Linked DNA regions of Homo sapiens: region 1 is linked to region 2. The links come from fine-mapping of genetic effects on gene expression. Tissue or cell type: thyroid. Region 2 holds a variant in brackets; the other region holds the start of a gene. All regions are shown on one strand. Distances are between the middles of the regions.

Region 1 (8,104 bases), 89 kb before region 2:
CCTCTGTCCACTTTTGGAAGAGGCGCCCTGTGGACTCATTTTGGTTTGGAAGCACGGCACAGGCTGGATTTCAGCACTCCCCTTGTCCCAGGTTGAGCGTGCACAAGCATCCCCAGGGAGGGCCAAGAAGGATGGAGCTGGGAAGGGGGGGCCCAGGGCCAGGGATGAGGGCAGCTATGGTCTCAAAGTAGCTGGCGCCCAAGCCCCGCCTAACCTGGCAATACTGGGGAGACTTGGGGTCAACATCCACAGTGGCCAGATAATCTGGGGCCTCAGTGCCTGTGTTTCGGTAAATGCAGGGCAGGTAGACGATCTCTTCCCTGGGTCCTGCACGGTAGAAAGCAGGCAGCAGGGACGGCAGGGTGGGAAGGAAAGGTAGGGGAAGTGCTGGGTGTGCCAGAGGGTGGGGGCTAGGTCTGAAGTCCCTCCACCCCCAGCTGTGGAATCAGTAGTAGGGCGCTGGCTCTCAGACCATGGGCAATTACCTTTCATGGCCTCCAGAGGGGTGGAGTAGCCGGGTCCACAATTCCCACATTTCGTAGCTGTGGAAGCAATGGGGCGCATTGGCTGGGCCACGCTCTGGAGGGTGAAGGCTCCCTCCGCACGTTCTGCAGCACACATCCCAGCGGGCCACGGCAGTGCGGCTGGCCTAGGTCCCCACTCCAGCCTCATCGCTCTGGCCTGTCCTCTCCGCCCCCTCAGAGCCCTGAGGAGGGTGAGGTTGTGCTGGGAAGAGCTGGAGACACATGACCTGAAGGTGGACAGACAGTCCAGCAGGGCCCCGGGAGGGTGGGAGGAGGGCTGATGCAGCCGGGGTCGTGTGGTGTAGTGAATATGACACGGACTCGGGGCCCAACCCCAGCCCACCACTGACTAGCCAGGGGAGCTTGGGCAAAGTACTGAAGCTCCTCGACCTCAATTTCTGCATCCTCTGTAAAATGGAGATGGTAAGAATTTCACAGTGGGCTTTTACGAGAAGTAAACACGAGGGTGCAGTAGGTGTGCAGCTCTGTGTTTGTCTGGTCGAAGCCCAGGCACCCTTGGCTGTTCTTGAGGAGCTGCTCTCAGGGAGTGGGGTGGCGCCTGCTCAGCTCCCTTCACCAAGATGCTTCTATATCAGGGGGAGGCCACTTCCTGCTTTTCTCTCCCCTGGGTCCTGATCCCAGGCTGCTAGCCAAGGGCTGGATTACATAACCGAGGGTCTGGGGCTAATACCAACTGGAAGTCCTCAGGCTGGTTTCTACCCCTGGGTGTGCCCCACTTCCTTTATCTGTAAAGTAAGGTGTTTGGCCCAACTCTGGAGAGCCCAGAGGCCTGCCCACCAGAGAGATAGGGAGCAACCCTCCCTATCTCTGAAGTCTGGCAAGAGGGGCCATGCTAATCTCCAGGATGTAAGTCAGCAGATGTGCAGTAGGGCTGGGACATCACAGCTACCAGCACCCCAGCATCAGAGTTTGGGGCCTGCTGGGGAGCAGGGGTTAAAGAATACCCAGAGGGGGTGGCAGGCTGAAAGAAACCCTGGAGTGGAGTCCACAGGCCTGGGCCCTGTCTCCTGCCTTGTCCTGTGGCCAGTCCAGCCTCTGCCTTCACAGCTGGGCCGCAAGTGGGGAGCCAGGAGTAGGCAGAGTGGGGCCTCCACTGGGGCCTGGGACTCCCACTCGCAGCAGCCAAGAGACTTAGGAAGCTGAGAGGCAGCAACAGCGTTCAGAGTCTGGAAACCTGGTTTCAAGTCCCAGTTTTGACGCCCCGTTTCTCCATTTTCTCCTCTTCATTTACGAAAAGTGGGCAATAATGATATTCTACCTACTTTGCTAGGTAGATATGGAGGACAAATAAGACAATGTATTCCAAAGGCCTTTCATAAAAATGAATTAGGCCGGGTGCGGTGGCTCATGCCTGTAATCCCAGCACTTTGGGAGGCTGAGGCGGAAAGATCACCTAAGGTCAGGAGTTTGAGACCAGCCTCACTAACATGGCAAAACCCTGTCTCTATTAAAAATACAAAAATTACCCTGTATTAAAAATTAGCCTGTATTAAAAAATACAGGCATACACCTGTAATCCCAGCTACTTGGGAGGCTGAGGCAGGAGAATCACTTGAACCTGGGAGGTGGAGGCTGCAGTAAGCCGAAATCACGCCACTGCAGTCACTCCAGCCTGGGCAACAAGAGTGAAATTCTGACTAAAAAAAAAAAAAAATAATGAATTACTGTGTAAATATGGGAAGGGCTGTGCCAGAGGAGAGGAGAATGCCAGGGAGTGCTCGATGCCCAGCGAGAGGGCTGGAGGTGGGGCAGGGAGAGAGAGAGAGGTCCAGTTCACAGGAGTTAAGGAGACTGGTTCTGTTACACAATCTTGCTAAGTCGGGGCTTGGCACCAGATGACAGGGGGTGGGGAAGGAGGTTGCTGGATACAGAAGGGAAAGGAGATTTTAAAACTCCAAGACCTCAAGACAGAGATACAAAAAATACAAAGCTAGGGAGAAGCTGAGAGGGAAGTAAAAGTGCAGAGATGGAGCTGCCCGCTCTGCAGCCTCGGCCCACCCCACACCCCAGCAACCCCAGCCCCAGCATTTCTTAGGGTCAGGCCTGGCATGCCACTGCAGCCCCAGGGAGCATCATTCCTCTTTCTGGGGAATACCCCCATCTGAAACATCTCAAGCAAGGTCTCGGAGCAGCTTTGGGTTTGGGATGGACTCATGGAAAGCTCAAGTGGGTTTTCCATGTCAGGCTGGCTGCTGGGCATTCTGCCAGCTCGGCATTCTGCCAGCTCAAGAGCCAGCCCCGAGCGGGGAAGGACCTCCCAACCAAACCTCAGTTCCTTCTTAGCCTGTCACCCAGAAGCCTACAGATGGAGGAATAGCAGGGCCAAGGGGGATTTAGGGGTGGGGGAGGCATTGAAACAGGTCCCCAGTGAAAGAGTGTGGGGGTCTCTGATTTCCCTCCCAGAGAGCTTTGCTGTGTGGAGTAGCTAGAGAGTGACCTGGGCACAGAAAGGCTTTGGACTCCCTACCTCGCTGGAGTACAAAGTTGGCCCATGGCTGAAATCAGGATCACCTCTCTACTATGTGAGGGCCAGGGACCTAGTGGTGTTTTCTAAGAGCGCCCATCTGATTTTCCCAGCTGCAGAAAGGCACCCTGGTCCCAGCCTCTGCTGGATGGAGCCAAGTCAGGGCCCAGGATCCCATCTCCCAGCAGTGCCTCTGCCCGTCTTCCTCAGAAAGTTTGGCTGAGCTGGGAAATGCAGTGGGGTGGTGGGGGAGGGGGTGTGCAGACTGGGGACAATGAAGCAGAGTCCACTACTCCCTCCCCAGCTCCCCACTCAGGTTTTCTAGCATTTTCTGGAGGAGGGCCTTCCAAATTAGGGGCAGACAGAGCAGGCAATGGGTGATTGGAAACCCCTCTCCTTACCCATGCTGCCGACTGGTACACTTTGATCCCGGCGGGTTTGCTGTGCTGGTGTCAGAGGCCGCTGTTCCGGGGAAGGAGCGAAGGGAGGGAATTTATACAACCAGCTGGGGGTGGGGCAGAGAAGGAGGAGGGCCCGGGCTGTAGCCCAGAGTAAACTACTCAGGGCAGCTGGCCAGGATACTCTCAAGTGGCCTAGGGCAACTGGTGTTTGAATTATGGGGTGTGCGTGTATGTGTTTAAGTGTGTATGTGTGGGAGCCTGTGCTTTATTTATTTATTTATTTATTTAGAGACAGGGTCTCACTCTTGCCCAGGCTGGAGTGCAGTGGTGCGATCTCGGCTCACTGCAACCTCTGCCTCCTGGGTTCAAGTGATTCTCCTGCCTCATCCTCCCGAGTAGCTGGGATTACAGGCACCCACCACCATGCCCAGCAATTTTGTATTTTTAGTAGAGAAGGGATTTCACCATGTTGGCCAGGCTGGTCTCAAACTCCTGACCTCAGGTGATCCACCCGTGTCGGCCTCCCAAAGTGCTGGGATCACAGGTGTGAGCCGCTGCCCCTGACCAGCTCGTGCTCTTTAGTGGGTGCCTGGGTGTGTGTGGATTTGTGTGTCTGGGCATGTGTGTGTTCCTGTATACCTGCGTGTTGCTCGTGCACGTGCCTGCATGAGTGTGTATCTGTGCCTGTGTGTGAATTTCCACGTGTGTGAATGTGCCTGTGAGTGTGCTTGTGTGTATTTGTGCGTGTGTGTGTGTGCGCGCCTCTGTATGTGCCTACCAGAGTATCTACGCCTGTGTGTGTGTGTGTGTGTGTGTGCGCGCCTCTGTGAGTATGTGCTTGCTAGAGTATCTACGCCTGTGTGGACATGTGCATAAGTGCTTGTGTATGTGTAGTGTGTGGCTATGTGGCTGTGCATGTGCTTGTGTAAGCCTGCGCACGTATGTGTTCCTGTGTCTCCAAATGCTCGTCTTTGTATTTGGACCTGTCTCTTAGCATTTAGGGGCACCCGGGACTGTGGGCCCATCAGCCAGGGTCACTTCTTCCCTAAGATTGCCCTCTTATTCCAGATATTCATACTCTTTGGATAAAAGCTCTGGGGTGAAGTTTTTATTGGCTAGGAAAAAGAATAAAGTCTGGGCTTGAGATTGCAAGTAGAATACAGGGTTTCCAAACCAGAGTGGGGGAAGGGGAGCAAAATTGGGCCTTGGTGCATTGGGTATCTGTCTTCCTGGCTCCCATCAGTGAGGGATCATGTGCCCATCAAGGAAGACTCCCTGTGGCTGCCCGGGGCAAGGGTCTTCTCTTATCCCCAGCGCCACTCAACCCCTCTTGGCTCCATCCTGCATCTATTATCCTCACCATTGTGCCATCAGCCTGCCAGGCATCAAAGAGAGTCTTGTGTGTGCAGCTGCCCCACGGGGAAGGCCCTGAAGGCTGCTTCCTTGTCTTTGCCAGCTTCCTCCTGTCCTGACTACCTCCACTCACCCTGCCTTCACCCTTCCCTCTGGCCCTCCCCTCTTCCTCCTCCTGAGGTCTCCATCTCCTGCCTCCTCTCTATTCTCCGGCTTCTTGGCTTGGGTTAGTCCACCACCCAAGATCTGAAAGAGAAAGAAACTTTATCCCCACCTTCTCATAAAAAATTATTGAGTCATTAACTTAAAAAAAAAAAGGCTGTTATTTTGTTTGTTGTGGTCTGTCATTGACTACCTCTTTCATGCTCCTGAGCTCTGACCTGGCTGGTCTCTGCAGCAACTCCATGGCACCCCTCACCTCTGCCTGTGGTTTTCTCCCTGAACTCTTGCTCTACAGCCAGCAGGTGGTTGGGGAAGTTATCCTAATCTGGGCTACAGAGGGAGGCAGTAAAGGTAGAGGGGCGATTCTCCTGCCTCAGCCTCCCGAGTAGCTGGGACTACAGGTGCCCACAACCATACCTGGCTCATTTTTGTATTTTTAGTAGAGACGGGGTTTCACCATGTTGGACAGGCTGGTCTCGAACTCCTGACCTCAAGTGATCCACCCACCTCCGCCTCCCAAAGTGCTGGGATTACAGGCCTGAGACACCGTGCCTGGCTGACCTGGATAATTTTTAAATTTTTTTTGTAGAGATGGGGGGTCTCACTATGTTGCCCAGACTGGTCTCAGACTCTTGGGCTCAAGTGATCTGCCTTGGTCTCCCAAAGTTAATTTTGGATTTTTAAAAAAATAATAAGTACTGCTTTTGTAACTAAAAGCTCAAATAAATATATTAAAAGAAAAACTATAAGGAAGATGAAAGGAAGGATGGAAGGTCACATGCAGTGCAGGTGAGGGCCACAGTGAGGGCCCATGCTGGGGAGAAGGACTGGCCCCGGTCCCTTTTGAGCTACAGCTCTCCCAACCAGCTGCCTATCCTTCCCTCTGGAGCACCTCTTTTGAGCCAGATATGGTAGACAAAGTGGTGAACAGGGCAAAGTTGCTACCTTCATGGAGATGACTTTTTAGGGGAGATGACTGATAATCATGCAAATACACAAATAAATAAAATCACTTCAGATAAGTGCTGTGAAGGAGTAGGGTAATGTAGGGGTGATGCAGCATTAGGTGGGGTTGCTTGGTATGTATGGGTACAGAATTATATGCAAACAAACAGTACAAAAGAACTAAAACAAACAAACCAAAAAGCACAAACGTGCACAAAATGCCTGTAAGGCATAAAGGTAGCAGCCCATGGAGGTCTGAGGCAGGACTGGCTGGAGAGGTTGGAGTTTTCACCAGCTAAGTAGAGTTTCAGAGCCCTGTTCTGCTCATTTCTCCTTATATTAACAGACCAACTCCATACCCTCAGGGATGTGTAGGAGATGTGAAGGGAGTAGCGTTTACTGAGAACCTGCTACTAGAGGTGACGGGCGCCATGCCGGGCCCTACACACTAACAATTAGCTCAGGTTCCGCCCATGGCACAGCTGGAGAGGTTAAATGCCTTTTTCTTTTTCTTTCTTTTCTTTTTTTTTTTTTGAGACAGAGTCTCCCTCTGTCGCCAGGCTGGAGTGCAGTGGCGTGATCTCTGTTCACTGCAACCTCCGCCTCCCAGGTTCCAGTGATTCTCCTGCCTCAGCCTCCTGAGTAGCTGGGACTACAGGCGCATGCTACCACGCCCAGCTAATTTTTGTACTTTTTAATAGAGATGGGGTTTCACCATATGGCCAGGCTGGTCTCAAACTCCTGACCTTGTGATCTACCCGCATTGGCCTCCCAAAGTGCTGGGATTACAGGTGTGAGCCACCGTGTCTGGCCTGTAAATGCCTTTTTCTTCATCTTACATTCAGGAAACAGAGTTTTCCCAATTCACTCCGTTGCCCACACTTAATGCACTGTTTCTGAATGACAGTGAGTTCAAAGCCTGCTGCTCAGGGTAATAACATGGCTCAGAGAAGAGAAATAATTTTTTTTTTTGAGACGGAACGTCACTCTGTCACCCAGGCTGGAGTGCAGTGGCAAGGTCTTGGCTCACTGCATGTTCCATGTCCTAGGTTCACGCCATCCTCATGCCTCAGCCTCTCGAGTAGCTGGGACTACAGGTGCCTGCCACCACGCCTGGCTAATTTTTCATATTTTTAGTAGAGACGGGGTTTCACCGTGTTAGCCAGGATGGTCTCTATCTCCTGACCTCGTGATCTGCCTGCCTCGGCCTCCCAAAGTGCTGGGATTACAGGCGTGAGCCACCGCGCCCGGCTGAAATAATTTTTTTTAATGCCCTCTGCCAGGGCTGTCTATAAAAAGCATGATTTGAGAACCACTTGGAGGACTTTCTCCTCACTGCCAATCCACTCAGAAATATCCTCCCTTTGGCCTGCCATTGATGCTTGAAACTTCACCAATAGCAGTTTATTTCTTTGTGTTACTACCAGATGGCCTCTTCTCACCTCCTGGCTACAGTGAATGTCTCTGGAGTGGTAACCCTTTAAGCTCCTAGTACTGCAGCGCCACTCAGTTTTATCAGAAGCCTGTGTCCCAGTGGGCAGCACTGAAGAGTGGCTGGGGGCCTATCATATCCAGGGAGATGCTAAGGTTGGGGACAGAAGGTGTTTAAAAAGCAAATGTTATCGTCTTGACTCCTTACCTCTATTGCTTAAAGAGAAGGAAGAATAAACAGTGAGGTGGCTCACACTTGTAATTCTAGCACTTTGGGAGGCTGAGGCAGGTGGATCCCTTGAGCTCAGGAGTTCAAGACCAGCCTGGGCAACATAGTGAAACACTTTCTCTACAAAAATTACAAAAATGAGCCAGGTGTGGTGGTGTGCACCTGCAGTCCCAGCTACTCGGGAGGCTAAGGAGGAGGATCACTTGAGCCTGGGAGGTGGAAGCTGCAGCAAGCTGTGATCATGCCACTGCACTCCAGCCTGGGCGACAGAGGAGGCTCCATCTAAAAAAAAAAAAAAAAAAATTATAAGCCATTTTGTTTCAGTTATGCCTCCTAGCCTGTAGCCTCCCTCCACCCTGAATTTTTTTGAAACATTGCTTTAATGTTTCAGAATATATCTCTTTAAAATAGGAATTCTGAATTGGGTATGGTGGCTCACTCCTGTAATCCCAGCACTTTGAAAGGCTGAGGCAAGAGGATTGCTTGAGCCAGGGAGTTCAAGACCAGCCTGAGCAACATAGGGAGACCCCGTCTCTATGAAAAAAAAATTACCTGTGGTCCCAGCTATTCAGGA
Region 2 (8,104 bases):
CATGCCTGTAATCCCAGCTACTAGGAAGGCTGAGGCAGGAGAATCACTGGAACCCGGCAGGCGGAGGTTGCAGTGAGCAGAGATCGTGCCACTGCACACCAGCCTGGGCGACAAGAGTGAAACTTCGTCTCAAAAAAAAAAAAAAAAGTAAAACCCCATTTCTGTGGAGTTTTGAGCGGCGGTAAGAGGTGTCTACGGGCTTGGAAGGACGGGCTACACCGCTTGCATCAAGACGGCGGCTGCTGTGAGATAGTCCAACTGCATCTTAGTTTCCATTTCGAAAATGAGACTGGCCACTAAATGACTCTAAGGACTCATCAGCACTACCTTTTTCTGAACTAAGAATGTCTAAGACAAGTGCTACTAGCAGTTTGAGAGAATCCCACATCTGGAGAGGAAGGAAATAAGAACAACACGCAGAAAGACGGAAAACAAATAGATCAATGACAGTACTCCTTTGCAAAAGGTGCCAAGAATCTAAATAAAATAGTCCCCGGGATAAACATGGCGCCCACCGCGGCAGGACATAATCACCAGAAAATAAAGATTCCCCGCCTCATTCCATTTTATAAATCACGGCGCCATCCCAAAAGAAATTTGGGGACCGAGGGAGGAGACTTCGTAAACTAGCTGCAGTGCACTAAGGCTTAGGATGTACTATTAGACCAAGCAGAGATTACATAACACAAGGGATCGGCTCAGCAATCACTCATTTTCCTCCTCCCGCTCAAAACGAGCGCCCCACTCCTTCTCGGAGCGGGAATGGGGCGGGGAGGGCCGCGCACCCCCACCCCCAGGGGCCGCTCCGCCGCCGCCCGCCCCTCCGCCGCACGGCCTCGCCCCCTCGCCGGCCCCTCCCGCCGCGCCCCGCCGTCTCGCCACCGCCCGCGCCCCCGCCCCCGCCCCTTCCCCAGCGGGCCACCGCCCGCGCCCGCGCCGCCCACTCCTCCGAGACGCCTCGCGCCGAGCGTGCGTGTGGACGTCGGGCTGTGTGCGGGGCCGTGGGGCGCGAGTGCGCGCGCGCGCGCCGCGGCGGGCGCCGGGGGGCGGGGGCGGCCGGCCAGCCGGCAGGCAGGGACCTCCGCCGCCGGCCCTTCGCGCGGCTCCCGCGGCCCGGGGCGCACGCACACACACTCGCGCTCGCGCGCCGCACCCCGCGGCCGCCCCTGCCGCGGGCCGCGCCGCCACTCGCGGTGGGCGGGGGCGCGCACCGCCGGCCCCCCGCCCCCACCCCCGCGCGTACCGGCCCCATCCCCCTCTCATTGTCTCGCCTCTGAACGCCTCGCCGAGCGAAAAGATAACGGAACCCCCGGGAGCAGGGGGTGGGGAGAGAGAAGGCTCGCTCGCTCACTCACCTCCTGTGGTCGTCGCCGCCGGTAGTCTGACCCGAGGAAGGCGCCGTCGCCTTAAAGGGACCTTACACCCGGCGCCAGAAGGGGGTGGGAGCAGGGGGAGGGGACGGGGGCTTGGGGGGAGACGAAGAAGAGGTAACCGTTGAAAGCTCGTCTCCCCAAGGGTGAAAGGAAGCCTCCCTCGGGTTCGAGTGATTCGGGGTGGATTTTTTTCCCGAGGGGGGCGGGGGGGCCCCGAGGGAGGGGGGTGGGGGGGCCAAGGAATGCGGCTCCGTGTACGGGAGCTGGCGCGGGGGAGAGAGACGCCGACTCCCCCCACCGACCCTCTCGCCCCGCGGAGGGATACGGCTCGTCACTTCCGCCCTCCCCTTTTTCACGGCCTCCCAATTGGTCGGAGCGCGCTGCACGTCATGGGCTCATCCAAACCCCTGCCCGGGCTTCTTTTCTAGTCAAGTTTGGCTGGGCCTGCAAATAAATAAATAAAGGAAAACATTTTTTGTAATGAAAAAAGAATAATTAGCTTCAGAAGCTATATCTAAATTTTGGTGAGAAAAATGAGACTTCCAAAGAAAATATTCCCCAATTTACTTGCCAAGAGTTTCCAAGGAAGTGTTGGGAGGCTCCCCCACTTTCCACTCAAGGCTTAGACCCAGTCAAGAGGGAGACTTCATGACACAGGCCAGGTGGTGAGGCCCAGTGGCACCAACAACTGTCATTGGAACAAAGAACAAAATGGCACTCACTCTTTCTCAAGAGACACTCGGCCAAGTAACCTTGTGGCTGCGGCCTTGTTTAAGTGAAGAACTTTTAAAAGCCATTTTGATCCTCAAGCCCTTCTGGATCCTGGAAAGAAGTGGCACACGATTGTTAAAGCGATTATTGTGATGGAAACTGCTTTGCTCCCATTGTGAGTAGATTCAGCAGAGATCCCCAGTTCCAAGAAACCACACACACTCCACATCCTTATGCTTTTTGCTCCAATCAAGGCTGAGATGGGTTGGCTCAAAGAAATTGGTTAGTCCACTCAAACGACCATCCACCTGTTTATTCTTCCCCAGACAAAAACTACCTCTTTTCAGGTAGCTAAGAAATTTTGTCCTTTATTGCCTTCTGAGATTATAAAAATGTAATATTTTCCTTGAATATTTGAAAATGTTTGCTATTTAAGCAATACACAAATATTTGCTTCAAACCAAATGTGAAATCAAGGTACTTGGTGCAGAAAGGGGAAATCCAGAACTATGTTTATTTGTGCTCTTTATATACACACTCCATTCAAACCACCAGACTGAAAATAGGCAGTGGAAGTAGGCATTCCAAATTGTATGCACCTGCCCGTGTGAGTGTGCACATGTGCATACACATACACACACTGCCACCACCCAGTTTCATTCCATTTCATACCAAAACCATGTGAGTGATTTCCACTAGTGTAGGATGCTTAGGAAGGACTTCATTATTTGAATGAGAAGAATCACTAAATCCTTCTGAAAATACTTCTGAAGACTTTCCAGACCTGATCTGGAGAAGCCCATATTAGGATTATGGGATCAATCACCAAAAGACTACATGAAACTCAAATCCTATTTTATACTGTCGTGTAATTAGTATAATTCATTATATATGTTATATTTACATTATGTATATTACGTTATTAACCTTTGAAAAATTCCAACATATTTCCCCATGCCCTGTCAATTTATTCTCCCAGCCAATGAGATCTAGCGCAGACTATGCCATATACCGTTGACCAGTAACTGTTAGCATGCTTTATTGAAAATGGATCATGCATCCATTCATTCATTCAATGAATATTTATTGGGGGCTGGGCATGGTGGCTAACACCTGTAATCCCAACACTTTGGAAGGCCAAGGGAGGAGGATCACAGCAGTCTGAGGGCAGCCTGGGCAACTTAGCAACATCCCATCTCTACAAAAAAAAATTTTTTTTTTTTAAACAGAGTCTCGCTCTCTCCCCCAGGCTGGAGTGAAGTGGCGCGATCTCGGCTCACTGCAACCTCCGCCTGCTGGGTGCAATTCTCCTGCCTCAGCCTCCTGAGTAGCTGGGACTACAGGCGTGCGCCACGATGCCTGGCTAATTTTTTCTGTTTTTAGTAGAGACGGGGTTTCACCAAGCAGGCTGGTCTCGAACTCCTGACCTCGTGATCTGCCCGCCTCCGCCTCCCAAAGCGCTGGGATTACAGGCGTGAGCCACCGTGCCTGGCCCCAAAAAATTTTTTTCATTAGCTGGTTGTGGTATTCCTAGATACTTGGAAGACTTGGGAGGATCACTTGAGGCCAGGAGTTTGAGACTGCAGTGAGCTATGATGACACTACTTGCACTCTAGCCTGGGAGGGACAGAGCAAGATCCTGTCTCAAAAAAAAAAAAAAAATTATTGAGCACATGTACTAGGCACTGTTTTAGGTGCTGGGAATACAGCAGCAACAACAACAACAAATACCTGAATCTGTGGGATTTATACTCTAGAAGGAAAGAGACATAAAATATACACATAAACAAATTGTTCTATTGTCTATTGTTAAATAACAAATGACCCCGAACTTAGTGGCTTAAAACAACAATTTCATTACCTCTCATGGTTCTGGGAGGTAATTAGGCTCAGCTAAACAGTTCTCACTTGGGAGTCTCGTATGCAGTGGCTAGGGCTGAAGTAATCTCAAAAGCTTCCTTACATGTCTGGAAGTTGAGGTTGACTGTTGGCTTGGACCGCAGCTGGGGTTGTTGGCAGACCATTTACAAGTGGCTTCTCCATGTAGCCTGGGCTTCCTCATATCATAGTGGCTGAGTTCCAAGACTGAGTGCCCCAAAAGGACCAGACAGAGATCGTGACCTAGTCTCAGAGGTCATATAGTGTTACTTCCATTACAGTTACAGGATGGAGAGCATAGATCCCCATCTCTCAACGGGAATAGTGGAAATGTCACATTGTAAGAAAGTGTGCGGAAAGGGAAATCTTGTGGCCATCTTGGAAAATGCAATCTGATATACATTATGTAAATAAATATGGATTATATGAAATGGTGATAGGTGCTATGAAGGGTAAAGGGCAGGATAGGGGAATTAGGAGTGTGGTGCAGACATGGGGGTGGAGAATTTGCTATTTTATGTGGGGTGATTGGAGAAGTCCTTGTTAAGGTGACATTTGGGCAAAGACCTGAAGAAAGTGAAGCAAAGTTTAGGTTTTACCTGTAGTGAAAATGAAGCTGCTGGAGGATCATAAAGCAAGTAGTGACACGGCCTGACTCACGTTTTTAAAGGATCACTGTGGCTGCTTGTGAAGAATAACTAATAGAGGCAAGGGCAGATGCAGGGAGACCAGATAGAAGGCTATTGCAATAATCCAGGTGAGAGTTGATGGTAGCTTGGACCAGGATGGGAGTTGTGAAGCTGCTGCTTCAGGTGATTGAGTTCTGTGGTGTGTTACTTACTCCTCTCTATTTTTCTGTCATTTAGTTTGTGCCCTGGGAGACAGTTTTGACCCATAATGCCCAATAAAATGAGTGATGGTGCT[A/G]TGCCTGCCACCAAGAATACAGAAAGTCTATCATGCTAAATGTAAAAGTGGGAGTTTTGCAGGATCTGGAGGCACCTTTGAGGAAATGGGTGAGGAAACAGAGGGTAAAGATCAACAGGCAATTAGGGAATGGAGTGTCTTTTGACGTTGTAAAAGGTATCCTGGCCAGGTGTGGTGGCTCATGCCTGTAATCCCAGCACTTTGGGAGGCCGAGGTGGGTGGATTACAAGATCAGGAGTTTGAGACCAGCCTGGCCAACATGGTGAAACCCCATCTCTACTAAAAATACAAAAATTAGCCAGGCGTGGTGGCACATGCCTGTAGTCCTAGCTACTCAGGAGGCTGAGGCAGGAGAATCGCTTGAACCCGGGAGGTGGAGGTTGCAGTGAGCCGAGATCACACCACATCACTCCAGCCTGGGTGACAGAGTGAGACTCCATCTCAAAGAAAAAAAAAAAAAAAGGAAATGATGAGCAAAGACATTTTATACCTTCAGAAGATTTCAAGGAAACTCTGCCACCTTACATTACAACACTGGTGCAGCACTTCAAAAGAGACTATACAGTTAACACTGCTATTTCCAGAAACGTATTCCTTGTGCTAAAGAGAGAATGCTCATATTAATTTGGACAGTGTTGGAACATTTTGCTTCTTCAGCTAAAACACAGGTTTCCAGAGTGAAGTAACAGAACTGATAGCTTTGGTCTCTCTTTTGGACCATCTGGATAATGGTTTGAACCATCTTGATGATGATGGGAAACCCAAGTAGTAGAACAAATAACCTGAATCAGATCCTTAGAAATCAACTCGTATGTGCCTCTGTAACATACTGGGGAGGAATCTGAAAGCCAATCCAGTCTGATATGTTGAAGAAATTTGATCCTAATAGTGGTACTCCTAAAAATTATTCCAGTCTTCAGTAGCCAACTTAGAAACTTTTTCTAAGAAAGAAAGTCAAAGGTTAATGGATGTCCCAAGCTGAGCTTTTCAGTTACATAGCTGGAGAGTGTTTCTTTTCTACAGTTTATGGAAATACTTACTTGCTTCCTTGACTTACGGTTTCTGCCACAAGTTGAAAATTGGGGCTGGGCACGGTGGCTCATGCCTGTAATCCCAGCACTTTGGGAGGCCAAGGCAGGCAGATCACCTGAGGTCTGGAGTTCAAGACCAGCCTGGCCAAAGGTCTTTAGTAGAGATGGTGAAACCCCATCTCTACTAAAAATACAAAAAATTAGCCAGGCGTGGTGGAACGCGCCTGTAATCTCAGCTATTTGGGAGGCTGAAGCAGGAGAATCACTTGAACCCAGGAGGTGGAGGCTGCAGTGAGCCAGGATTGCACCGAGCCAGGATTGCACCATTGCACTCCAGCCTGGGCAAGAAGAGTGAAACTCCATCAAAAAACAAACAAACAAACAACAACAACAAAACATACAAAAGAAAATTGGAACCACCTGTAGCTTGGAGAATGTTAAAGAAGAGAGACAAATGATTTCAGCATGTCTTCAAAAGCATTGAGTCATGGATGCCCTCGGTGGCATCATTTTGCTAAAATGCAGACCTAATCACTTATTGTTCAGGTTCAGCGTGAGGTTGACTGGTATGTGTTTGGGCGGGGAGTAGGGAGGCTCAGATGGTGAGGTTAGTCCAGGCAGAAATAAGCTTCGTGGGAGATAATGCCAGATTTCTTTAAGAAATGGGTAACAGCCGAACACGATGGCTCACGCCTGTAATCCCAACACTTTGGGAGGCGGAGGTGGGCAGATCACAAGGTCAGGAGTTTCAGACCAGCCTGACCAAAATAGTGAAACCCCGTCTCTACTAAAAATACAAAAAATTAGCCGGGTGTGGTAGTGCATGCCTGTAATCCCAGCTACCTGGGAGGCTGAGACAGGAGAATTGCTTGAACCTGGGAAGCGAAGGCTGCAGCAAGCCGAGATCACGCCACTGCATAGCATCCCGGGCCACAGTGTGAGACTTCGTCTCAAAAAAAAAAAAAAAAAAGAAAGAAAGAAATGGGTATCCCACTCTCTGTAATGCACACTCAGGATTGTCAAAGCTGGAACCTCAAAGAGAGCTACTCATTTCAGAAAACGTAAGAGAAAAACAGTAGAGACATTTTTACCATCTGAGCAGCTCCCAGGTGGAAAAGATGGATAGCTGATTGCACTGAGCCTGGGATTCAGCATGTGTATAAGTCAGCATGTGTGGTGGAAGGAAAACATTGAGGTGCTTAACTTGACAGGCAAATTGCCATGAAATAAAGGGCAAGTGGAGATCTACATTTGACCAATGTCAAATTAAAAAATGGGGAAGTTAACAGCTGTGGCCGGATTTTATTTAGGAATATTATTTGCTACCTTCTTATGTTTAGAAGAGTTGGGGACTTTCCTAGAGACACAGGAGGTGAGAAAAAGCCTGAGGAAGTTCTCAGCCTGGGTTTCTAAAGGAAGAATTCCCATTAGCTTTCAGTAAGAAGCAATTAAGATCTCTGTCTTCAAAATATATTTCATAAGAAATGCATGAGCAGCAGTGTTATCATCATCAAGAGCTCACTGTGAGTTGCTGCATGGTTTCCTAGGAGGTAATGATGTAGTTTAACTTCGAATTAAATTAATATTTTAAAGAGATACCCAGAAGCAAAGCTATACTTGTCTAATCTAGGTTGTTGCTATGGAGTTGACCAGGTATGATTATCAAGTAATTAAATTGACTCCATAAAGCTTCATGACAAAATAAATTGGACTATTTTATAGGTATGCTTGATATATGACTTGTTCCTGATAATGGATTGCAGAGTAAAATGTAGTAAAAATTCCTTTTCCTCTAGCATACATTCTTTTTAAATTTAGCAGTGTTTATATTTTATTATAGTCATGCATAATTTTCAGAATGCAACTGTGGACAGTAAATAGCTTTTCCAATTCATATTTTTGAAGGACATGATGATTAATATCATTGTTTTACAGATGAGAAGACTGAGGTATCATTCAGAATTAATTTTTTTTTTTCAGGCAGAGTCTTGCTTTGTTGCCCAGGCTGGAGTGCAGTGGTGCAATCTCGGGTCACTGCAGCCTCCGTCTCCCCAGTTCAAGTGATTCTGCTGCCTCGGCCTCCCGAGTAGCTGGGATTACAGGTGCCCGCCACCATGCCTGGCTAATTTTTGTATTTTTAGTAGAGCTAGGGTTTCACCATGTTGGCCAGGATTAAATTTTTTAAAG

Which allele goes with the higher level. Alleles are on the strand shown, and positions count from the first base shown. SD is a standard deviation of normalised expression in the study named.
In carriers of allele A in region 2, the expression in thyroid of the gene that starts at base 3,478 in region 1 tends to be higher than with G alone (moderate effect, 0.57 SD a copy in GTEx).

The links. PIP is the estimated chance that this variant, and not a neighbour inherited with it, causes the effect.
Region 1: SELENBP1 starts here. The variant in region 2 is fine-mapped to the expression of SELENBP1 in thyroid (GTEx, PIP 0.95).

The regions. Positions count from the first base shown.
Region 1 is chr1:151,369,228-151,377,331 of GRCh38, forward strand. It overlaps SELENBP1 (selenium binding protein 1), which reads right to left and starts at 3,478. Exons shown (of 12, transcript NM_003944.4): 1 at 3,411-3,478; 2 at 486-542; 3 at 215-327. The coding sequence starts at 3,414. RefSeq lists enhancers at 743-1,414, 1,415-2,085, 2,832-3,415, 3,416-3,999.
Region 2 is chr1:151,457,797-151,465,900 of GRCh38, forward strand. POGZ (pogo transposable element derived with ZNF domain) reads right to left here and starts at 1,698. Exons shown (of 19, transcript NM_015100.4): 1 at 1,356-1,698. RefSeq lists silencers at 799-848, 1,039-1,088 and an enhancer at 1,919-1,968. The variant A/G (reference allele first, on the strand shown) is at 4,887.